Regions from separate parts of the Homo sapiens genome. Here all the other regions are linked to region 3. The links come from fine-mapping of genetic effects on gene expression. A gene starts in region 3. Each other region holds a variant in brackets. All regions are shown on one strand. Distances are between the middles of the regions.

What was found.
Region 1: its variant is fine-mapped to the expression of BOK in lung (TOPMed, PIP 0.98).
Region 2: its variant is fine-mapped to the expression of BOK in thyroid (GTEx, PIP 0.91).

What each region holds. Positions count from the first base shown.
Region 1 is chr2:241,607,042-241,615,218 of GRCh38, forward strand. The region is part of intron 2 of THAP4 (THAP domain containing 4); the gene reads right to left. Among named protein-coding and RNA genes, the nearest start is that of THAP4, 26 kb to the right of the region's middle. RefSeq lists enhancers at 1,423-1,592, 2,499-3,000, 3,001-3,501, 3,718-4,238 and a silencer at 2,951-3,520. The variant C/A (reference allele first, on the strand shown) is at 3,954.
Region 2 is chr2:241,625,158-241,633,334 of GRCh38, forward strand. THAP4 (THAP domain containing 4) reads right to left here. Exons shown (of 6, transcript NM_015963.6): 2 at 7,760-8,177. Among named protein-coding and RNA genes, the nearest start is that of THAP4, 7.9 kb to the right of the region's middle. The variant G/C (reference allele first, on the strand shown) is at 4,228.
Region 3 is chr2:241,555,565-241,563,741 of GRCh38, forward strand. BOK (BCL2 family apoptosis regulator BOK) reads left to right here and starts at 3,181. Exons shown (of 5, transcript NM_032515.5): 1 at 3,181-3,429; 2 at 3,891-4,139; 3 at 6,784-6,912. The coding sequence starts at 3,920. BOK-AS1 (BOK antisense RNA 1) reads right to left here and starts at 3,579. Exons shown (of 2, transcript NR_033346.1): 1 at 3,213-3,579. RefSeq lists silencers at 3,844-3,923, 3,954-4,023, 4,074-4,203.

The sequences.
Region 1 (8,177 bases), 51 kb after region 3:
AGGCGGGGTTTAAAAGGGAAGTAAGACCCCGCTTCCCTGAGGAGGGGCTGGGGCTTCACAGCAGCCTGTGTAGTGGCCAGGAGACCCCTTTAGAAGGTCTCCTGTGGGGTTCAGTCTCTCATCCCACTAAGTGTGAAGGATGACACCACAGGCCTGGAACTCAGAGGTGGGGGTGCAGTGACAGGACAGCAGGGAGGGGCCGCTGGGTTGGCTGTTCTGCTGGGCGAACTCAAAGGGACCCCTGCTTCCTGCCTCGCTCAGCAAGGACTGGGTGCTCCCGAGCGGCTTTTCAGGATTCACTCACATGACCCTCACCCTGGCTGGATGCACGGGCCCTGCTCTTACTCATTTTCTAAGGGAGACCTGTGCGGGGACCACAGGAAAGCCCCACTGCATGCTACCCATCAGGGGCGCTGGAAGAGAAGGACTGATCCCCAGAGGCAATCCCAAAGACCTGCTTCCCAGGCCTGCTTAACCCTCAAGTCTCAGTGCTTCAATTGACAGAACGGACACTGACACCCAGGAGCAGCAGCAGGGACAGAAGCAGCTCTGTGGCCGCACAAGCCTCATCTACGGAGCCCAAAGATGCCCAAGCACAGAGACCGGCCTGCACATCAGGACTGACCCCCGGCGTCTCCTCCAGGCCCGCGCAAGCAGAAGACGGACTGACGGGGACAGGATCAGGACTGACCCCCAGTGTCTCCTCCAGGCCCGCGCAAGCAGAAGACGGACTGACGGGGACAGGATCGGACTGATGCCCAGTGTCTCCTCCAGGCCCGCGCAAGCAGAAGACGGACTGATGGGGACAGGATTGGACTGACCCCCAGTGTCTCCTCCAGGCCCGCGCAAGCAGAAGACAGCTGACGGGGACAGGATCAGGACTGACCCCCGGCGTCTCCTCCAGGCCCGCAAAAGCAGAAGACAGACTGATGGGGACGGGATCAGGACTGACCCCCAGTGTCTCCTCCAGGCCCGCGCAAGCAGAAGACGGACTGACGGGGACAGGAGTTCTTGGAACCATCGCAGCTTCTGAAATTACACAACCTTTGGATTATAAATTCCAGGAAGTCTGGGAAAAGAAGATCGGGGGAAAGGAAAGCAAAGGCTCTGGGGGTGGAGGAGACCACGTCCAAGAACAGCTTGGAACCAAGGAGGGCCGCACATGTGGCCTGGCCCAGTGGCCGAGCCCTGGGGCCCAGAGTGAGAACCGAGGGTGGAGAGCAGGTAATGAGCACTCTGCCTGCTGGCTGCACAGGGCAAACATAGGTGACCTGAAGCAGGAGAGTGGGAGAGTCCGCTCCTTTTCCAGACTGGCCTGTGGTCTTTCAGTATTTCCTTTTTTGTTTTTCTTAAATGATGATTTAAAAATTTTTTATATCAGTATTTCCTCCTCAGACTCCCGGTGAAAAGTGGGAAGGTGAGGATGGGAATATTTGGACTTCAATAAAACTTTCCTAATTAGACAATAAGAGAATTTTTAAATCAAGATTTTCGTTGCAATCTTTCACGGAGATAAGGAATAGAAGCTTCTGAATCCAATGTGTGGCCTCTGGAACGAGGCTTGTGATCTATCATAGCTGATCAATTCTTTCATCATTCAACGTGCTGGACACTCTTCCAGGGAGAAGCTGACGGAACAGTCATACATCCCTACGGAGCATACATCCTAGCGAGGGCAGACAATACACAAGAAATGAGTGAATGATGCAGAACTGAATGTACATTAGGAGATGAGGCAGAAAGGGAGACAGGGCTGTTGGGGCACTGTGAAAACCTACCCAAAAGGGACAAGGACACCCTCCCTGAGAAGTGTGCACAGACCAGGCAGGGGATCAGGGTCCCTGCAGCTACCCTGGAGAAGAGCAGACCAGGTGGAAGTGCCAGAGACGGAGGTCCTGGGTACGTAGGCCTGGTCTTGCTGGAGAGGAACAGGAGGCCAGTGTGGCCAGGGGAAGGAGATCCTCACCCCTCGGAAGGGCCGTGACCTTGACTCTGAGCAGACAGAAGCCCTCGAGAAGGCTGAGTGGGAGGGACGAGGTCTCTGACTGCAACCACAGGAAGCCAGGGAGGGCAATGGCAAAAACCCTTGTGGCAGAGGAGGGTGGCCTGGGCCAGGTGGCCGTGGTGGAGGCAGTGGAAAGGACCTAGCTTCTGGATCTATCTTGAAGGCAGAGCCACCCGGATGTGCTGATGGTTTGGATGTGAAACACGTAAGAAAAGATGGTAACGGAGGTTTCTGGCCTGAGCAATTGAGAAGACAAGTTACCATTAATGGAGAAAAGGAAGAATGAGAAGAACCTTGGGAGGTGTGAAACAGCAAAACTCAGTCACCTGGGATAGCCCAAGTCCTAAGATGGGCTAAACAAACACCATAATTTCTCAGACAGCCAGCTATAGCCTTGGAGACCTTTCAGTTTGGTAGACTTTATCCAGCTCAGCACTGAAAAGAAAGAGGCTTTGGGCCGGGCGCAATGGCTCACTGAACCTGTAATCCCAGCACTTTGGGATGCCGAGACGGGCAGATCACCTCAGGTCAGGAGTTTGAGACCAGCGTGGCCAACGTGGTGAAACGCTGTCTCTATTAAAAATACAAAAATTAGCCGGGCGTGGTGGCACACGCCTGTAATCCCAGTTACTCGGGAGGCTGAGGTACAAGAATTGCTTGAACCCGGGAGGCGGAGGTTGCAGTGAGCCGAGGTCGTGTCACTGCTCTCCAGCCTGGGCGACAGAGACGTTTTCTCAAAAAAAAAAAAAGAAAGAAAGAGGCTTTGCAAACCTCAGGTTTTTGGGCCGGCTCTCTGGCCTGTGCGGAGCACACCCCACAGCGACTGCCACGGGGCTCTGGCTCTCCTGGGACCGGGTGGACCCACTTCCACTGGTGAGCGCAGCCTGCATGGGAGCTGAACCCTGTGGGAAGCGGCACCCCGGGCGCTGGGGAGCAGCGATCCAGAGTCCAGGTTCTGAGCTGCTGCACCGGGGCCGCGATCTCCACCCCTCACGCCCGAGTCCCCGGCACGGCCACCACCGGCCCCTGGGTCCCGAGGGCCCCGAGGAAGAGGCCAAGGGGCCTGGCGGCGCCCCCCAGGGTCCCAGTGGAACAGGGGCACCAGGGCCGCGGCGCCGGGCATGGCCTTCACACTCCCCACGAGGCAGGACAGCCCCGGGCTAGGGTGAGGGGCACGCGCCGCAAGTCCTGCCTCTGCTCCCGGGCGGCCCCCTCCAGCCTCCGCCGGCCCCGCCCCGGAAGCGCAGCCCCGCCTCAGGCGCCGCATCTCCGCCCTCTCTTGCGCCTGCGGGACCGGGAGGGCCGCGCTCGCCCCCCAGCGCCAGGGTCACGCCACCGCGCCCTGTTTGGGGAGCGGCAGAGGAGTCAGGGCGGAGGCTGGGCGGCGCTGGGCGGTGGGGCGCGCTCACTGGCTGCCACCTCACCTAGCAGGCGTCACAGGGCTCACTCAAGAGCTCCAGCAAGAGCAGAGGCGGGAGCCTCGCCAGCCCCTCCACAGACCACAGCGACCGCGCCCCTCGGCCCGGAGGCCCCGCCCTCCCCACTCCTGCTTCCCCAGCCACGGGGTCTTCTCCCGGCCCCTCATCTACTTGGCAGACGCCTCTCACCGGCAGCCTCTGCCTCCCCCTGGTCTTTCCCTCCCACCACCCACCGTGGAGTCCTCTCCGGGAGGCCCTGTCCTCCATCCAGCGCTCCTCAGAGGGGACCGGAGAGGAGGCGCTCCTTAAATGGGGAAGAAAGACGGACAGAGCCAGGGACAGCGAGAGACGGGACGGGGACAGAGACACAGAGACAGAGAGACAGGGCCAGAGAGACACGGGGATGGGGCCAGAGACGGGGCCAGAGACAGAGACACAGAAAGGGATCTTACTCTTTCTTCCCTTAAAACCAGCTTCTGGGGGTCTCCGAGGGGGACTCTCAGGTAAGTAACAATATTATCACCTTCCCT[C/A]CCAAGAATTAAAAAAAACAAAAATAACGAAAAAACCTTTTCCCTGAACTTGATTTTGAGGGAAAATAGGTCACAGATACAACCCACAGCCACCAAAACACACATACGGATGCTGTGAGAAGTGGTGGGTCAGTGCCTCGCTGGAGGACAGGAGGGGCCTCTGGGAGCTGGGGGGGTGGCCCCTGAGAAGCCTCAGGGTCTGGCCTGGCTCAGAGGCCTGGGGCGGAGTGGGGAGCCCTGGACTTGGGAAGCCTGGAGGCTCTTCTGGCCCCCGCTCTGCCACAGGGAGCTCCTGCAAACAGCAGGCCCAGGGCACCCCACGCGTCTGCCCAGGACACCCCAGGTGTTCGCCCAGGTGCTGAAGGCCCAGGCTGGCCTCCATGCAGGGTTACCCACCACCCGCCATAGAGAAGTAATGCGCCACTCCGAAAGAAAGGGGTGCTGCCGGCTGGACGCAGTGGCTCACGCCTATAATCCCAGCACTTTGGGAGGCCAAGGCGGGTGGATCATCTGAGGTCAGGAGTTCGAGACCAGCCTGGCCAACATGGTGAAATCCCATCTCTACTAAAAATATAAAAAACTAGCCGGGCGTGGTGGCGGGTGCCTGTAGTACCAGCTACTAGGGAGGCTGAGGCAGGAGAATGGCATGAACCCCGGAGGCACAGGTTGCAGTGAGCCGAGATTGTGCCACTGCACTCCAGCCTGGGTGACAGGGTGAGACTCTGTCTCCAAAAAAAAAAAAAAAAAAATTAAGAAAGAAAGGCATGCTGCTCCTGAAGACCTTCTGCTTCTCCAGCAATGGACTAATGGACTCTAAGACACTGCCTGAGTTCAGAGATGGACAAAAGGTGACAAGACACCAAGTGTGAACAAGAGCAGCAAAACATACAAACTGCAAAATGTTGATGGGGCAAAGGTGAAACTAAGAGAAAGGGTCTTGCTCAGTCACCCAGGCTGGAGTGCAGTGGCATGAATACGGTTCACTGCGGCCTAGACCACTGGGGCTCAAGTGATTCTCCCGCCTCAGCCTCCCGAGTAGTTGAATGAAGCTGCTCCATGAAGAAAGACCACTAACTAAACATGTAAGAACTCAGGAGAGAAACGGCAAGGAAAGAGGAGAAGGTGAAACATGACCTGGCAGAAGTCGAGAAAGTAAAAGAAAAAAAATCAAGCCACCACCCAAATGAAGTGGAGATTGGAAGCAGCACAGGGAGAAACAAACACCGGGAAACACAGCGGAACACAGAGGACAGAAATGAGTTAAAAAAAAAGACAAAAGATAGAGAAATGGAAACAAAGTTAGAAGGACGGGAACGCCTGGCACACTGCTGATGGGGACGTGAACTGGCACAGCCTAGTGAAGACCATCTGGCATGTGCCTGAGAGGTTAAGTGTGGAGCAGTGGCCCAGGACTGCCACTCCTGGAGACATGCACTCCCAGCAGAAATGACACACCTGTCCCCACAGGACGCTGCCCATGAATGTTTACAGCAGCACCATTCCCAACAGCCCCAAAGTGGAAACAACACAGATGTCCGTCAACCAATGAGTAAACAAACTGCAGTATATCCAGACAATGGAATGTTATTTGGCCATAAAAATGAAGCACTAATATAAGCTGCAATTCAAATGGCCCTTGACAACACACCATATGAAAGCAATCAGGCTCAAAAGAGCACATATTCTGCAATTCCATTTCTGTGAAAGGTGCAGAACACACACATCTACAGAGACAGAACGTGGGTCAGTGTTTCTCCACAGCTGCGTTCTGTGGCAGAAGACGCTAGAGTCACACGTAGAAGGCGCATGAGGAGGGAAGGTGAGTGGCAAGGATGCTACGGCTGGCCACAGCGATCCTTCCAGATTGCAGGCGCGTGAGCTGGCTCACTGACACGTGCAGTGAGTGCGAGCTACAAACTAGATTCCGAAAACTCAGTCCAAAAAGTCTTCAAATAATTCAATAATCTTATAGTATGGGTGGTTGCCTGTTGAAATAATTTTTAGATAATATCGGGTTAAATAAAATATATTATTAAAATCGATTTCACTTGTTTCTTTTTACCTTTTTAATGTAGCTATTAGAAAATATTAAACTACATAAGAGACTCACTCTCTAGACCTTTTCGACAGTGCAGGAATGGAGTTTTCAACCCTTGGCACCCAAGGAGCTTTGTTTCTATGTCTTCTCCCTGAGGACATTACCAGCAGCTGGATGTCATCAGGAGACAATAGGGAAATGATGCGGAAAGAAACCTCCGTAAACACTGAATGTACTAAGCCAAAAAAAAAAAAAAAGCGGTTATAGAAACAACAAAAAAAAACTGGTTATAGGTGGTAGATGCCTGGTCGTACAGGCATGACACTCAACTCATAGGACCCTTGAAGGGGCAGAACTCCCCACTGGTCTTGTCCCTGAGAGCTGACACCACAGAGGCTTACAAATGAAGTAGCAGTGGAAGATTTCATTTTAAAAACTGGGCCGGTTGCAGTGGCTCATATCTGTAATCCCAGCCCTTTGGGAGGCCGAGGAGGGTGGATTGCCTGAGCTCAGGAGTTTGAGACCAGCCCAGGCAACATAGCAAAACACTGTCTCTACCAGAACTACAAAAAATTGGCTGGGCGTGGTGGCACGTGCCTGTCGTCCCAGCTACTCAGGAGGCTGAGGTGGGAGGATCGCTTGGGCCTGGGAGGCAGAGATCGCAATGAGCCGAGAGCACATCACTACACTCCAACCTGGGTGACAGAGCGAGACCCTGTCTCAGAAACAAAACAAAAACAAAACAAAAAAAAGTAAAACACAACAAGCATAATATAAAATAAGATGACAGAACCAAGACTAAAAATGCTTGAACTTACATATGAAAAAGCTTTTCAAGGCCGGGCATGATGGCTCATACCTATAATCCCATAACTTTGAGAGACCGAGGTGGGTGGATTGCTTGAGTCCAGAAATTCGAGACCAGCCTGGGCAACATAGTGAAACCCCATCTCTACCAGAAATACAAAAAAATTAGCCAGGCATGGTGGTGCGTGTCTGTAGCCCCCGCTACTTGGGAGGGTAGGTGGGGAGAATCACTTGCGCCCAGGAGGTTGAGGCTGCAGTGAGCCAAGATCGCGCCACTGCACTCCAGTCTGGGCAACTGGAGAGACACCCTGCCTTGAGAAAAAAAAAAAAAAAGGCTTTTCAGATTGGACCACAAAGCAAGACCCTCACCTCTTTTGCTGTAAATGAGAGATGCACCTAAAATAAAGCAATTCAGAGAGAGAGTCCAGAAAGCTGGGCAATAAGCAATAAGGAAGCAGGCTTCCCAATCTTAGCATCACGTAAAATGCATGGAACTAGACAAAGAATGGCTCTCCCGAATGAAGGGCAGAATGCACAATGAAGACGTAACCGTGAGGGATACTCATGCACCAAGCACAGCAACATCTATAAAGCAGAAATTACTGATGACACACGAAGATGTCGAGAGAAAGAAACTAAATGAAATTGCAATTCACCTCTAAGTCTGAATGAATACAAATAAAACAAAATTCCCAAATAATATAATTAATAAGGTAGTTCTGACTGATACATATTGAACTCTGTAGCTTAAAACTAGGGAATACCGCCGGGCGCAGTGGCTCACGACTGTAATCCCAGCACTTTGGGAGGCTGAAGTGGGTGGATCACCTGAGGTCAGGAGTTCGAGACCAGCCTGACCAACATGATGAAACCCCGTCTCTACTAAAAACACACAAAAAATTAGCCGGGTGTGGTGGTGCATGCCTGTAATCTCAGCTACTCGGGAGGCTGAGGCAGGAGAATCGCTTGAAACTGGGAGGCAGAGGTTGCGGTGAGCCGAGATTGCACCATTGCACTCCAGCCTGGGTGACAAGAGCGAAACTCCATCTCAAAACAAAAACAAAAACAAAAACAAAAACAAAACTAAGGAATGCCTTCTTCAAGTTCCTCTGGAACAGTCATGCAAACTGGCCTTCTAAATGGTCAAAGAAAGCCTGTAAGTTCCAGAAAGCAGAAAGAAGTCTACTGTCTGATCACAATGCAGTGAGACTAGAAATGAAAATCAATCAGGTGTCCCTTGAAAACACTGCGCGAAAAGAAAGAAGCCAGACAAAAACGTATATATTCTATGATTCCAATTAGATGAAATTCGAGACCAGGCAGAAAGGATGGAGGGTGGGGAATCTGAACGGTGACGGGGAGGGGCTTGGAGGGGAGTG
Region 2 (8,177 bases), 70 kb after region 3:
TAATACCAAAACACGCACACTACAAGAAAACTACAGGCCGGGTGTGGTGGCTCACACCTGTAGTCCCAACACTTTCAGAGGCCAAGCTGGGAGAATCACTTGGACCCAGGAGTTCGAGACCAGCCTGGGCAACAGGCTGGGACCCTGTCTGTACAAAAATATTAAAAAACTAGCCAGTGTGACGGCACGTGTCCATAGTCCCAGCTACTCGAAAGGCTGTGGCAGGTGGGTCACCTGAGCCGAGGAGGTTGAGGCAGCAGTGAGCCGAGGTCACACCTCTGTACTATGCACTCCAGCCTGGGTGACAGAGTGAGACACTGTCTCAAAAAAAAAAAAAAAAAAGGAAAAAGGAAAAAGAGTCCAGGTGTGTGGATCACGCCTGTAATCCCAGCATTTTGGGAGGGTGAGGCAGGCAGATCACGAGGTCAGGAGATCGAGACCATCCATGGCTAACACAGTGAAATCCCGTCTCTACTAAAAAATACAAAAAATTAGCCGGGCGTCATGGCGGGCGCCTGTGGTCCCAGCTACTAGGGAGGCTGAGGCAGGAGAATTGCTTGAACCCGGGAGGTGGTTTTTGCAGTGAGCTGAGATCGTGCCACTGCACTCCAGCCTGGGCAACAGAGCAAGACTCCGTCTCAAAAAAAAAAAAAAAAAAAAAAAAAAAGAAAAAAGAAAACTACAGACAAATATCTCTCATGAACACAGATGCAAAAATCTCTAAGAAAACATTTGCGATTGAATAAAAAAAATGTATAAAAAGAATTATTTGCCATGACCCAGTGAGATCTATTCCAGGTATGCAAGGCTGGCTCTGTGCTCTAAAATTGATTAACGTAACCCGTCACATCAACAGGCAAATCATCTGACCGTAAATCACAGGATCACATTAATAGGTGCAAAAAAATCATCTGACACATTCCAACATCCCATTCATGATAACAGCTCTCAGCAACAGGAATAAATGGGAATTCTGTCAACTTGATAAAGGACATATAAAAAAACTACAGCTTGGTGGCTCACGCCTGTAATCCCAGCACTTTGGGAGGCTGAGGCGGGCAGATCATGAGGTCAGGAGATCGAGACCAGCCTGGCCAACATGGTGAAATCCCATCTCTACTAAAAATACAAAAATTAGCTGGACATGGTGGCACATGCCTGTAATCCCAGCTACTTGGGAGGCTGAGGCAGGAGAATTGCTTTAACCAGGGAGTCGGAGGTTGCAGTGAGCCTAGATATCGCCATTGCACTCTAGCCTGGGCAACAAGAGCGAAACTACGTCTCAAAACAAAAACAAAAACAAAACAAAACAAAAAAACAAAAACCAAAAAACAACAACAAAGTACTACAGCTCACATCATAAGGAGGAAAAAAAACACTGTTATTATTTCTGCTATTTCTTAACAGTTTTTGTTTTTTTTTTTTAGACGGAGTCTCGCTCTGTCACCCAGGATGGAGTGCAGTGGCGTGATCTCGACTCACTGCAACCTCCACCTCCCGGGTTCAAGTGATCCTCCTGCCTCAGCCTCCTGAGAAGCTGGGATTACAGGCACGTGTCACCATGCCCAGCTAATTTTTGTATTTTTAGTAGAGACAGGGCTTCACCCTGTTGGCCAGGCTGGTCTCAAACTCTTGACCTTAAGTGATCTGCCTGCCTCGGCCTCCCAAAGTGTTGGGATTACAGGCATGAGTCACTGAGCCCAGCTAATCTGGATTTTTGAACAACTTTATATTGTGAAAAATCTTGAACATTACAAATTAAACAGATTAGTGTAATAAATCCACACACATGTCCCTAGTTTCACCATTTATCACTCTTCTGACATTCCTGTTTTGTCTGCACTTCTCCAAACTCTTCAGCTTCCATTTATTATTTATTAACAGATTGTTTTTAGGACAGAAAAATCCAGCAGGTAGTACAGAGAATTCCTTCACCCTCTCACCCCCTGCCCTGTTCCCCTATGATTAACATCTTGCATTAGTGTGGGTATGTGTGTCTCAAGTTACGAACCAATACTGATTCATTGCTACAAATAGGGTCCATAGTTTACATTAAGGTTCACTTGTTTTGTACTTGGATTTTGACAATCCAGATTTCAAGAATTATATGTAGATAATGAATCCATAAAGGAATAAAAAGAAAACAGATTTTGAAGCAAGTGTTAAATTGCTGAACTTAGGAAACAGGTGAATAATATTTAACAGGCGTTGGTATCCTTACTGTATCAAGAACGTTTATAACTCAGTGGGCAAGCAAGACCGCGAACACGTGGTTCATAGACGTGCTAACAATGTACCCTCAAGGAATCGCTGCTGGCGGAGAAGAACACTACGTCCACAGAACGCCACCGGGCACTGCCTCTGGAGCGTGGCTTCAACCCACCTCTGAAGCCCACTGGCCCGCATCCTTCAGTTTGGGGAACCTGCCCAAAAGCAGACACTGGCTAGCGAGCTGAATAGACAAGTGTGCGGCGCTTTCCACATAAATCCCTAAAGAATGACCCAAAGAGTCTGTCACTGAAGAACAAATCCACACGGACAGCAAGAACCACAGAGTGCAGACCCCAGGGCCTGCGACGCCGGCGTGACAGACTGCAACCCCAGGGAGAGGATGTCCTCTCCCCACCACACCCTCGCTCCTGCCACCCCTGTGCCCACACCGCATGCCCAGCCGTGGCCTGGCCTCACCTTTGGAGGGGCACAAGGCATGCAGGGTGGTGCCTGCACCTGTCCCTTGCTCTCCAGAGCCTGGCCCTTCACAGCCCTCCCCACTGACACACTCTCTTTGGAGCCACACTCCCTCTGGCTCCTGTCTACTTGCCTCACTCCACTTCACGGCCAAACCTGGCCCTGACCCCTCATCACTGGCCCCCTCTCCGCCCAGCTCCACCAGCCTCTCCAGTGAGATTCCAGTAACCAGCGACCCTGGGAGCACATCCAACCCCCTTCTCTCCACTATCCTGGGGCACATCCAGCCCCCTTCTCTCCATTCTGGTCAGAGTAGCACCCAGCACAGCAAGTCACCCTTCTTTCCTGAACAACCCCTCAGCCTTCCCCTGGACCCGCCTCGGCTGCCCCTCTCTCAGCGAGGCCTGCTCCTGGGCCGGGCACTGAAGCCCAGCCTAGAACCACACTCGACCCCCCAAGGCTTCAAACACCTCTGCCCTCCACCCCCACACTCACATGCCCAAATCCCAGAGGCCAGCTGCTGGCCTCAGACTGCCTGTTCAAACTCTGGCCTCAGCACCCAAGAGCATCTCAAACTCCGTTCCTCACCCCCATCTCCTGCTCCTCCCCAAAAGCCTCTCCCACTTAGCATCCTCCAGGTGCTCAAGCCTAATCCCTGTAGCTGGCCTGCTGATCTTTTGCCTCTCAACCCCCTGAACCCAGCCAGTACTCCAGCATTGCTACCACCGCCACTTCCTCCCTAAAGTCTGAGCCATCGCCATCTACCCTGGGACTGCCACAACAGTCACCAGCGCCCCCCTCAAAACTGTACTGGAATAGGATTTTTTTTTTTTAAAGTCATGGCTGGGTGCGGTGGCTTACCTGGCCAACATGGCAAAACCCCATCTCTACAAAAAAAAAAACAAAAAACAAAAAAAACAAAAAAACAAAAAAACACACAAAAAATTAGCCGGGCATGATGGCACATGCCTGTAGTCCCAGCTACTCAGGAGGCTCAGGTGAGAGGATCGCTGGAGCCCAGGGGGTCGTGGCCGCAGTAAGACGAGATCATGCCACTGCACTCCAGTCTGAGATTGTCTCAAAAAAAAAAAAAAAAAAAAAAAGTCATTAAATACTGCCAAAAAGGAGGGGAAACTTGGATACAGCAAACAATGGTAAATAAAGTAACCAGTAAAATGTATACTTCAATCTAATAATCATGGTTGCTTGATGGGGGAATAAGAAGCACCGGAACTAAGATGACATACAGCCTCCACCTAGGGAAGGTGGCACACAGGACCGATCAGCTCTCAACAGTTACACAAAGAGGGGCTCACGTGTTTGTTTTTAAAACTGAAAGATGGGCTGGGCACAGTGGCTCACAATTATAAACCCAGAGCTTTGGGAGGCTGAGACGGGAAGATCCCTTGAAGCCAAGGGTTCAAGACCAGCCCAGGCAACATAGTAAGACCCTATTGCTACAAAAAATTTTAAAAATTAGCCGGATGTGGTGGTATGTGCCTGTAGTCCCAGCTACTCGAGAGGCTGAGGTGGGAGGAT[G/C]GCTTGAGCCCAGGAGGTCAAGGCTGCAGTGAGCTGTGATAGGACCACCACACTCCAGCCTGGGTGACAGAGCAAAGCCCTGTCTCTTAAAAAAAAAAAAAGAAAAGAAAAAATTGAAACATATCCACTAGAAGAATAATAAGAAAACGGTGAGGAAGCCTAACAAATTAAAAAGGTAGGCCCGAATTCCCACTTATCAGTAATCACAATTGTAAATGACTAAATTACTCTACAAAAAGACTTTTGGATTGAGTTAAAAATATAACTATAAAATAAGATGAAAAGGTTGAAAATAAGGAAATGAAGAAATAAGACGTTAAACGGGACAAAAAGGAGTTTCTTGTGTTGGTAACAGGAAAACTTATGCATCAAACAGCATGGTCTTGAGGCAGAAAGCAAAACTTGGACATACAAGCAGAAACGGGCACCTCCAGAACCACAGGGGAGGTCTACCTCACCTTTCCTGGAAATCAGCAGACCGAGAGCCTGACAAGAAGCTAGGGAACGCTCTGGTCCGCTGACTAACACAAGTAAGCAAGTGCCCAGCTTCAGGCGGGAACAATATAACCAAGGAGTGGTGAGGATACATTCTTCTAGCACTACACTGCAACAGTCACAAAAAGGGACTGTGTTAGCCACAGTGAAGTCTCAAAGGATTCCAAAAAGCAGAACTCCTTCAGTCCTTACCATTAGACCTTAATGCAATCAAATTTTAAAGTAACTACAAAAAAATTTGCTCCCCTCGCCCAATCTGTGTGCACTGAAAAATCTGTCAACACCCTTTTAAATAACCACAGGGTTAAAGGGGGCATCGAGGCTGGAATTACAAACGACTCAGAAATGAACAGCAACAAAAGCAGAGAGAGGCAGATCCATGGCACGCAGCCCAAGGAACAGCAGAGCCACAGCCTCCATTGCAGGGTTAAGGAACACGCCAGGAACCAGAACTACAAGAAAAAACCCAACAAAGCAAAAAGATGTAAGGATTAACCAGCATAAACAACAACTCAGAGACACGAAGGGCTGGCTGTTTGCAAAAACCTGTAATGGAGACAAACTTCAGGAAGTTTAACCAAGAGGAACAGAGAGAAGCTGTCTAAAGCAGCATTAGCTCTGATAACTACAAACAGCTTTAAAATTCCAAGAGAAGCTGGGAGGCCGAGGCGGGTGGATCACCTGAGGTCGGGAGTTCGAGACCAGCCTGACCAACATGGAGAAACCACTGTCTCTACTAAAAATACAAAATTAGCTGGGTGTGGTGGCGCATGCCTGTGATCCCAGCTACTCGGGAGGCTGAGGCAAGAGAATTGCTTGAACCCGGGAGGTGGAGGTTGCGGTGAGCCAAGATTGCACCATTGCACTCCAGCCTGGGCAACAAGAGCAAAACTCCGTCTCAAAAAAAAAAAAAAAAAATTCCGAGAGAAGGCCTGGTGTGGTGGCTCACAACTGTAGCCAACATGGTGAAACATCATCTGTACTAAAAATATAAGAATTAGCCAGGTGTGGTGATAGGGGCCTGTAATCCTAGCTCCTTGGGAGGCTGAGGTAGGAGAATTGCTTGAACCCAGGAGGCAGAGGTTGGAGAACTGCTTGAACCCGGGAGGCAGAGGTTGCAGTTAGCTGAGATCTCACCACTGCACTCCAACCTCGGCAACAGAGTGAGATGCCATCTCAAAAAATAAAATAAAATTCCAAGAGAAAAACAGTATACAATTTCAACCCAAGAATCCGAAAATCTAGATTTGATCTGAAAATCTAGGTCAGCAGTACTCAGTGGCACCGTTCCTCCCCAGGACACATCTGGAGAACATGTCGGATGGGCTTTGTTTTCGGTTGTGCTAATAGCTGTTACCCTGAGGATCCAGGAGGTCCTGAAAATCTTGTCCCACTATCATATACTTATTGACAAGCATTGATCCAGATGAAATCAACAATGTGGTAGGAATATGGTTTTCCTATGTACACGACAGGCAAAGGAAACCATCCGCCATATGTAAACATCTAGAAACCAATTTTAAGAAATACTTAACAGTAAAATATGGGAAAAAACAGAAATAGAGCTAATATACATACAAAGATTACACAGGAAATTTTGTTTTTTGAGACAGGGTCTCACTGTCACCTAGGCTGGAGTACAGTGGTGCAATCACAGCTCACTACAGCCTCGACCTCCCAGGCTCAAGCTATCCTTCTGCCTCAGTCTCCCAAGTAGTTGGGACCACAGGCGTGCACCATGGTACTCGGCTAATTTTTAAATTATTTATAGAGATGGGGTCTCCCTATGTTGCCCAGGCTGGTTTGAACTTCTGGACTCAAGTAACCTTCCCTCTTCGGCCTCCCGAAGTGCTGAGATTACAGGCAAGAGCTACTGTGCCTGGCTTACACACCAAATTTTTAATAACAACAAGGAATAGAACTTGGGAGGTGGATGACAAACAATAATTTTTTTACCACTTCTTAGTCTATTTCTGCAGTTTTAATTTTTGCAACAGAGAATGTATTGTATTTCTTTTTTTTTTTTTTTCTCTTTTGAGACAGAGTTGTGCTCTTTGTCACGCAGGCTGACAAAGAGTAGTGCAGTGGTGCCATCTCAGCTCACTGCAACCTCCGCCTCCCAGGTTCAAGCTATTCTCCTGCCTCAGCCTCCTGAGTAGCTGGCATTACAGGAGTGTGCCACCATGCCCGGCTGAGAATGTGTTTCAATAGATGTGTGTCTTTTTTTTTTGGAGACAGAGTCTTATTCTGTCACCCAGGCCAGAGTGAAGTGGTGCAATCCTGGCTCACAGCAACCTCTGCCTCCCAGGTTCAAGCAATCCACCTGCCCCAGCCTCCCCAATAACTGGGATTACAAGCGTGCACCACCATGTGCAGCTAGTTTTTGTATGTTTTAGTAGTATGTTTTTGTATGTTTCACCATATTGGCCAGGGTGGTCTCGAACTCCTGACCTCAAGTGATCTGCCCACCTTAGCCTCCCAAAGTACTGGGATTACAGGTGTGAGCCACCGAGTCCAGCCTCAACAGATGTTTTAATTGAATAGATGTTAAAATAATTATTAATGTTCATGATGATTTAACTTCAAGGATATTCCTTAAAACGTGAACAGAAAGAACCTCCTCATGATTTTAACAGTTTCTGATATTTGCTTTTTCTGAGAGTTTACTCTCTTATTTTCCATCTAGTTCCTAACTCATCTGGAATTTCTGTTGCATAAGGTATGAAACAGAAGCTATCTTTCCCTGTGCACTCTCCACGGAGGCGTTCAGGCACTCCTGGCTGACGCGTGCTGCCTGCCTCCTTCACGGCCTACATCCCTACACACACAGATGCCTCTTGTGGGACCAGGTGCAGTGAGGCCTGCTTTCTAACCTGGATTCCCTCATCCACAAGGTATGGTTACGACCAGAGCTTCCTCCTGAGAGCGCAGGGAGCTTGTGACACCTCCCAGAAATGCTCAGGGGACGCTGGCCACCTTGCAGAGAAACCCCTCCTAACGGGAAGGGAACATGGGTACGCGAGGCTCCGGTACTGACCGCGGCTGGGCGACAGCAGGCTACTTGGATAGGGGACGCTCACTCTCCTCAGCTCATCCAGCTTCTCCTGTAGCTTCCGCACCTGGCTGTCGGAGCGGCTGACCCTCTGCCGCAGGCTCTTCAGCTCGCCGTTCTTCTTCTCCACCTGCTCCCGCAGGCAGCACACCTGGCTCTTGTTCTGCCGGGAGGAGAAGCAGTAGGAGTGCAGTGAGTCGATGAGCTTGCAGGCCCCTGACGCCGACAGGATGACCTCGTTGATGGACATGGGGCTGGCGTCGCTGTGCTCGCTCTGCACGGCTTCCGTGGCTGGCTTTGGGGTGACGTCGGCAGGAGGGGCAGAGGGGCTCTGGGAAGGCTTCTGCGGTGTCGCGGTAAGTGATGAGCTGGGAGGGCTCTGGGCCAGGCCCTTGTCGGGTCC
Region 3 (8,177 bases):
CGGAGTCTCACCTTGTTGGTCAAGCTGGTCTCGAACTCCTAACCTCAGGTGATCCACATGCCTCAGCCTCCCAAAGTGCTGGGATTACAGGCATGAGCCACCACGCCTGGCACACTTAGGTCATTTTCAGTTCCTTACTGCTAGCAATGTTCCATATTGAACATCCAGAGACACAGCTTTACCTGGTTTCTGCAGCTCCTGGGATGCAGAACATGTCTATCAATTATGCCCAGTGGCCCACTACCCCCATGTCAGAGCCCAGGAGACGGCTCCAACAGGAGACAGGAAGCAGGAAGTATGAGTTCATTCTGCACAGGAGGAAACTGAGCCTGTGAATGGGGCAGGAAGTTGCCTGAGGCTACACAGCGGGAAGGTTGCAGGTGTGAGCTTCCTGGTCTCCTGCCTGCAAGTACAGGCTCTTCCCCTGACAGAGGTACTTCAGGAACCATGGAGTTAGACCCCAAGGTTTACAGTCTGGCCATGCCCAGTCTTGCAGTGACTCCTTGGGCGAGATCTTTTCCCTCTCTGCATTTCTGTAATGCTATCTACAGGGAATCCCAAACCTGACTGCTCTTCAGAAATCTGAGGCGCACACTGTCCAAGGAGCTCTAGACTCTACATTAAAGAGTTCATTAAAATGCACCCTCAGATTTTACTGTACTACAGCTTTTCTGAAAAAGCAGCTAACAATGACTGAGCACTTACTACATGACATGGATTAAGAATTCAGTCCTCCCAGGCTGGGCGCTGTGGCTTACGCCTATAATCCCAGAACTTTGTGATGCCAAGGCAGGTAGATCACGAGGTCAAGAGATCGAGACCATCCTGGCCAACATGGTGAAACCCCCTCTCTACCAAAAATACAAACAATTAGCCGGGCGTGGTGTCAGGTGCCTGTAGTCCCAGCTACTCGGGAGGCTGAGGCAGGAGAATCGCTGGAGCCCAGGAGGCGGGGTTGCAGTGAGCCGAGTTTACGCCATTGCACTCCAGCCTGGCAACAGAGCGAGACTCCGTCTCAAAAAAAAAAAAAAAAAAAAAGAATTCAGTCCTCTCAACAATCCTAGGAGGTAGGTATTATTATTCTTCCTACTTCCCAGACAGGAAAGTCATAGCAGATAGAAGTTCCATAGCTTTCCTAGCTTCTGGTAATGTTCCTGACAGGTTTCGGTATTAAAATTACATTGACCTCATAAAATGAGTTGGGAAATACTCCCTCATTTTTAGTCTCTGTGCAGGTTTGTATGAGACTGGTGGTATTTTTTTAACTGTTGAGAAGAATTTCTCAATGAAACCATCTGAACCTAGAATTTTCTTTGTGGGAAGATTTTAAATTACAGATTCAATGCATTTAATTGGTGTAGGACTATCCAGATTTTCTATTTCTTTTAGTGTCAGTTTTGGTAAGTTGTGTATCATCTAAAATTTCAAATGCACTGTCAAAAAGTCCTCCATACTATCTTTTTATCCCTTTAATGCTTGTAGTATCTACAGTGATGTCCTCTTTTTCATTCTTGATAGTGAAATTTGTGTTATCTTTTTTCTTACTCAATCTTTCTGGGGATTTATCAGTTCTATTAATCTCTTCAAAGAACCAATTTTTGGCTTTGTTGATTTTCTCTATTTTTTGCTTTATTCCATTAATTTCTGCTCTTATTTTTATTATTTCCTTTCATCTTTAGTTTTATTGTTCTTTTCTAGCTTCTTGAGTGGAAGCTTAGAGCAGTAATTTTATTTTTCTTTTTCCTTTTTTTTTTTTTTTTTTGAGATGGAATCACACTCTGTTGTCCAGGCTGGAGTGCAGGTGGGATGATCTCTGCTCACTGCAACCTTCGCCTCCCAGGTTCAAGCAATTCTCCTGCCTCAGCCTCCTTAGTAGCTGGGATTACAGACACCTGCCACCACACCCAACTCATTTTTTGTATCTCTAGTAGAGACGGGGTTTTCACCATTTTGACCCGGCTGGTCTCAAACTCCTGAGCTCAGGTGATCTGCCCACCTAGGCCTCCCAAAATGCTGGGATTACAGGTCTGAGTCATTTCACCTGGCCTAATTTTCAATCCTTCTTCTAAAGCTATCAAATTTCCTCTAAGCAGTGTTTTAGTTGCACTGTACAGCATTTGATATGTCTTATTTTTCACTGTTCTTGTCAACATATTTTAATCTTCCACTGTGATTATTGACCCATTGATTATTTAGAAGTGTGACATGTAATTTCCAAGCATTTGCAGATTTTCCAGTAATTTTTCTGTTATTGACTTTTAATTCAGAGAGGACACACTGTAAGATTTCAATCCGTTGAGATTTGCTGAGACTTGTATAAGGTCCATGATATGGTCTATTTCGATAAACATCCTATGTGCACATGGGAAGAATAAGTATTTTATAGTGTTGTACACACGTGAATTAGGCCAAGTTGGTTAATCCTATTGTTCAAACTGTGTGAGGTTGATTCAAGGATAAAGAAATAAACCAGTGGGATAGAGTTCCGAGACACACACACACACACACACACACTCTTCAGCTGATTTATGTTGAGATGTTGGGGACTCCTCCAATTCGGTGGAAAAAAAATGATGCTTTTCAATAAATGATGCCAGGTCAATTGGATATCTACACGAAAAAAAATGAGCTCTAGCCCCGTACCACACCATTCACAATAATTAATATGTAATCAATCATAGATCTAAATATGAGCCCTAAAACAAGCTTCTAAAAGGAAATACAGGAGGATATCCCAATAAAAAGGTACTAACCATAAAGAAAATATTGATAAATTGGACATCACTAAGAGTAACTCCTGTTCATCCAAAGCAAAAGTAAACCACAAAATAGAGGAAGATATTTGCAATAACTTCAATAAATGCGAATCCAATAATCCATCTACAATACAAAGGGCATGCGTCCGGACCAAGAACACGTCTCCAGACTCTGGAAAGAACCTCTACGAACGAAGAAGACAACCCAATTTTCAAATGGACCCCGGGGAACACCCAGGCGGCTGGGGCTGGCTCTAGGTCCCCACTGCTCTGCCTTGCGGGGGCCGCTCCGGCCTGGTCGCCTTCTCCGGGCGCATCCAGGGAACTCGCTCGGTCCTCCTTAAGCGGGGAAGCTCGGAAAGCGTCTCCCCGACTCCGCCCCCAGGGTTGCCTTTCCCTTAGAAGGCCAAGCCCCAAGCCCAGCCTCTCGCCAGCTGGGAGTCGCGCGCTGCCCACCTCGCTGCCCAGGCCCCCGACGCCGCGGCAGGAGCCCCCCAAGAGCGCGGGAAGCCCCGTGGACCTGGCGCTCCCGGCTCGGGCGTGGACGGGGCGGGCGCCGGGGCGGGGCGCGCGTCCTCGCGGGTCTGAATGGAAGGGTCGAGGTCGTCGTCGGCGGCGAGCAGATCCTGAAGCCAGAACTCCACCCCGGCGCCCGCGCCATGCGGCGGGAGAGGTGAGCGCGGCGGGCGTGGCGTCCGTGCCGGGGTGCCCGGGGTGCCACGGGAACGGCGAGGCCGGGGACACGCGCGCAGGACGCCAGCGGCGGAGGTGGGCGGCCCCGGGCCGGGGCGGGGAGGGCCGGGTCCTGGCAGTCGCCGTGGGGGACGCGCTGGGCTGTGCCCTCCGCCCCCGCCGCCCACGCACTCGTCTTCGAGGGCGGGCCCGGCGGCCCCGGAGCAAACCGCCGTCTCCCCGCGGCCCCACCGGTCCCTGGCAGCCTCGGGGAATGTCTGTAGCTGAATTCGGGCTCTGAAAGAAGGTGGCGCTGGGTTTTTAAAGATTTGGGGCACAAAAAACGAGAGCGGACCCGGCGCCGGCTACGGCCCTTCCCGAGGGCCACGCCCAGCCCGGCGCCCCGCGCGCCCCGTTCCCCGCGCCGCCTCCCTCCACCCGGCTGAGCGCTTGTGCCCGCAGGTGCGGCGCCCCCCACCCGCGTCGCCGCCATGGAGGTGCTGCGGCGCTCCTCGGTCTTCGCCGCCGAGATCATGGACGCCTTTGACCGCTCGCCCACAGACAAGGAGCTGGTGGCCCAGGCCAAGGCGCTGGGCCGGGAGTACGTGCACGCGCGGCTGCTGCGCGCCGGCCTCTCCTGGAGCGCGCCCGAGCGTGCCGCGCCGGTCCCGGGACGCCTGGCTGAGGTGTGCGCGGTGCTGCTGCGCCTGGGTGAGTGCGCCCTGGTGGGATCCCCAGCTGCGCCTCCTCCCCTGCTGGGCCGCAGCCTCCCTCCGAGGCCGAGATGGGGGTCCGGCCCAGGGGCGCCCACCCCCTGCCTGGGACGGCCAGGCGCTCGGGACAGGGCCACCCAGGCGGGTGCTCCCGGATCTGCCCTCTCAGGCCTCCCACGCCACAGGCCCCCCCATCAGCTGCCTGCTCAGCCCAGATTTCAGTCATGCTGGCCATAAACAATAGAAAGCTCCAGAAAGAATAATCTATTAGTGGGTGGCTAAGCTTCCACAGTGACCCTTGTTCTCAGCTGGGCACAGAAACCCTTTGTAGGAGCACGTGTCCCGATGTTTATTTTGGAAAACAGATTCTTGCTGTTACTGGCCGAGATCCCGCCCGCTGCCCTCTGGATTCCGAGGCCTCCGAGGCCCCCCCATTGGAAACTGCGCCCACCGGGCTGGGTAGCCAAAACCTCAGTATTCGTTGGTGCTGTGAGGACATCTGGGGGTGCTCGGTTCTGGGGTCACACACGGTCCACTGGCTGCCCCCACCGTCTCCAAGGTCTGGACCCAAGAGGGAGGGACCAGCCCCACTGTGACTGTCCAGTCCCCTCACCACAGCTGGGCTGTGGCCGTCACCTGGGAATGTTTATGTGATGCCCGAAGAGGGCACATGGGGCGCCTGTGGCTGAGCCCGGGAAGGGGAGGTGACAGCATAGGTGAAACTGAATCGGTGGCTCTCCAGGCAGGGGGTTGGAGTCGGAGGGCACGACCCCGTGAGGGGACACGCTGCCTCCTCTCAGGCTGGCGCTGGCATGGGCTCTAGGTGGCCCCTGCCCTTACGTGGTGGGCTGGGCCCAGAGAGCAAAGCTGTGTAGACCTGGCCTGCCCAGGAGTGTGTGTGGGGTGCAGACAGAATCCATGGGGACCAGCACAGAGCCTCCAGGAGGAGGTGGAGTCCCATCTGAGAAGTTCAGAAGGAGGGAGAGGTCTCTGGGTGGGAGCTAGGGGGTTGGTGGGGCTCCATGAGATCCGCCGCCTGCTGCTGCCTCTAGTCGGGCTCTGAGAATGACCCTAGGGGATCCTTTTAGTGGCCTTCTGAAAAGATGATGCCAGACCCCTGGAATGGCTGGGAAGAAGTCCCAGATGTCTAGGGGGACCCCAGAGGGACACAGCTCAGACCTGCATCTGCCCTCACGGCTGCTCAGGGTCAGTCCCTTGAGGCCAGCGCTGTCTCCCTGCCCTTGGGCAGTGCAGACAGGAAGAAGCCCGGGTTGTGTCCCCACCTTCAGTCTGGGGCCAGCCTGCAGCAGCCCCGGAGATCTGTGTTTGGGAGCTGCCGGGTCAGTCCTGGGAATTTCCATGTCGTCCCCCGCCCCCAGCCAGCCTCTCATGGGCTCTGCTCTGCTTCCAGATCTTAATTAATGAGATACAGAGCAGCCTTTATCAGCTGGGATGGTCCGGTCAGCAGCATTACCCTGTTTGCTTTGGCTGGAGAACTGGCCGGGCTGCGGACTCCCAATCCCAGGGCCCTGTGGCATTCTCGGCACCATCTGCCCCGTGCCTGTGCGCTGCTGCTGCCAAGGGTGCCACAGGCAGCACTGGGGCGGTGGGCCTGTAGGGGCCATCCTCGGCTGCCAGGGGCAGGGCTGATGCAGTGCCACCTCCAAGCACATCCCCTTGGCAGCAAGAGCCCAGGTGGGAGCGTGGCAGTGAGGGTGGCCCAGGACAGCGGCCCAGCCAGCCCAGGTGGGAGCGTGGCAGTGCGGGTGGCCCAGGACAGGGGCCCAGCCAGCCCAGGTGGGAGCGTGGCAGTGCGGGTGGCCCAGGACAGCGGCCCAGCCAGCCCAGGTGGGAGCGTGGCAGTGCGGGTGGCCCAGGACAGGGGCCCAGCCAGCCCAGGTGGGAGCGTGGCAGTGCGGGTGGCCCAGGACAGCGGCCCAGCCAGCCCAGGTGGGAGCGTGGCAGTGCGGGTGGCCCAGGACAGGGGCCCAGCCAGCCCAGGTGGGAGCGTGGCAGTGCGGGTGGCCCAGGACAGCGGCCCAGCCAGCCCAGGTGGGAGCGTGGCAGTGCGGGTGGCCCAGGACAGCGGCTCAGCCTCTGCATCTGAGTGGTCCCTGAGCCATGCTAGGGCCTGAGCCGGGCTCTCGGGCTGTCCCCTGCTCTCACCCCAATGCTTTCTCTGCCCAGCCCCTCCCCACGTCGGGCTCCCCTGCTCTCACCCCAGTGCTTTCTCTGCCCAGCCCCTCCCCACGTCGGGGTCTGGCCGTCTGCCTGGTCCCTCCTGCTCTGGGCAGCTCGGCTGCCTGTCGGCTGTGAGTCACCAGCAGGCACGGCCCACGCTCTCGCAGGATTCCCGCCCCACCGGCTTGGCCGGCTAGGCTTAGGGGCTGGCTCGTCAGAGGGGCGGGACTGGGGGCGCCTTCAGTACTTCCTTGGTCTTCTGGTCCCTAGGGGCCAAGGTTGGGGGATGGCCCAAGGGAGGTCAGATGGGGTCAAGTGGAGGTGGGAATCAGACAAGTGAGGAACAGGCTGGAATTCAAGCATGGTCAGGTGGGGGTCAGGTGCAGGGTGTGCCCCAAGCCAGTCGTGTCCCAGGAAGCTGGGACGTGGGCTGCCTCTCACCTGCTCTTGTGACCACACAGGCGATGAGCTGGAGATGATCCGGCCCAGCGTCTACCGCAACGTGGCGCGTCAGCTGCACATCTCCCTGCAGTCTGAGCCTGTGGTGACCGATGCGTTCCTGGCCGTGGCTGGCCACATCTTCTCTGCAGGTATGCCCAGCCTGCCCGTCCCATGGGACCTCAGGGAGGGATCCAGGGTCTGTGGCTCAGGCTCACAGGGACCCCACGAGCTGGCCCCCACCCATCCTGGCGCTGCCCAGTGCCCACCGGTGCCATCTCACTGCTGCAGGTGTCAGGAGCTGCCCAGCCACCAGCGTGGGCTCAAACCACAGCATTCAGGGTCTCTTGTGGTTCTGCAGGCTGGTGGGCATGCTGAGCAGCTGGCACAGGCTTCTTGATTGGTTGTAGTTGTGGTCCAGCATCCGTGGGGCCGCGTGACCTGCAGTCCTGTGGGGTGGCACGTCCTAGGGCTGCCTGGTTTCCTGCAGGGGCCCCCGAGCGGGGCTTGGGCTTCTCACAGCATGGTGCTGTGTCCCAAGGAGGAGTGGCAAGGAGCAGGTTTCCCAGACAGCTCCCGAGTAGATGCTGCCAGGCTGTTAGGATATACCCTCAGAAGTCACGGGTAACTCTGCTGGATTCTGATGGTCAGAAGCGAGCCTCAGGGCTCCAGCGTCCAGGAGAGGGGAGAGCATGGGGGTCCAAGCAGACTGGCTCCCGGAGGGCATCCGGAGAACAGCAGCGCATCTCACCTGGCTGTGCCTGCCTCACCTGTGACCCTCCTGTGCGCTCCCATCTCTGCCCTGGAGAGGCATCTCCTGGCCCTGCCTCCCTGCTCCTGCTGCTCCCGGCTGTCCACATGCTTCTAGGCCCACGGGAGGCTTAGGGCTTGTCTCCCCTACTCGGTGCCCGCTGTCCACTTGTCCAGCTGCCTTGGCCTGGATTTGCCCAGTGTGGCTTCTGTCCGCTTGCCCCATGTCATCAGGTCTGGCCCTGCAGACCTCAGCCCCCTGCCTTTGACCTCTGTGACCTTGGGTCCTGTCCTGGCACCCCGTGCTATGAGCTGCCCCTGGGTGTGGCAGGCGCTGGGTGCTGCTGTTGGGGTGAGTGGTGCGCCGGCCCTGATGTGGCACCTCCCTGATTGGCACATTCCTCAGCTGTTTTCCAAGTGCTGTCCAGGTGCTGGGCACAGCTCTGGGCCAGTGAACCCCGGGGTGCGCAGGATTCCCTGAAGCTTGGAGGAGGGGCATGCTGTTCCCCTGGGGCAGTTTTTTGGAAGACCCCTGACAGCAGGGAGGCCTTGCACACCCTTGTCTGGGAGCTGGTGTGGGTCCGTGGCCAGTCAGCTGTGTGACTGTGGCCTGCTGTCATCTCTGTGGCCTCAGCTGCCTTGTCTCCAGGCAGTCCTGACAGCAGCA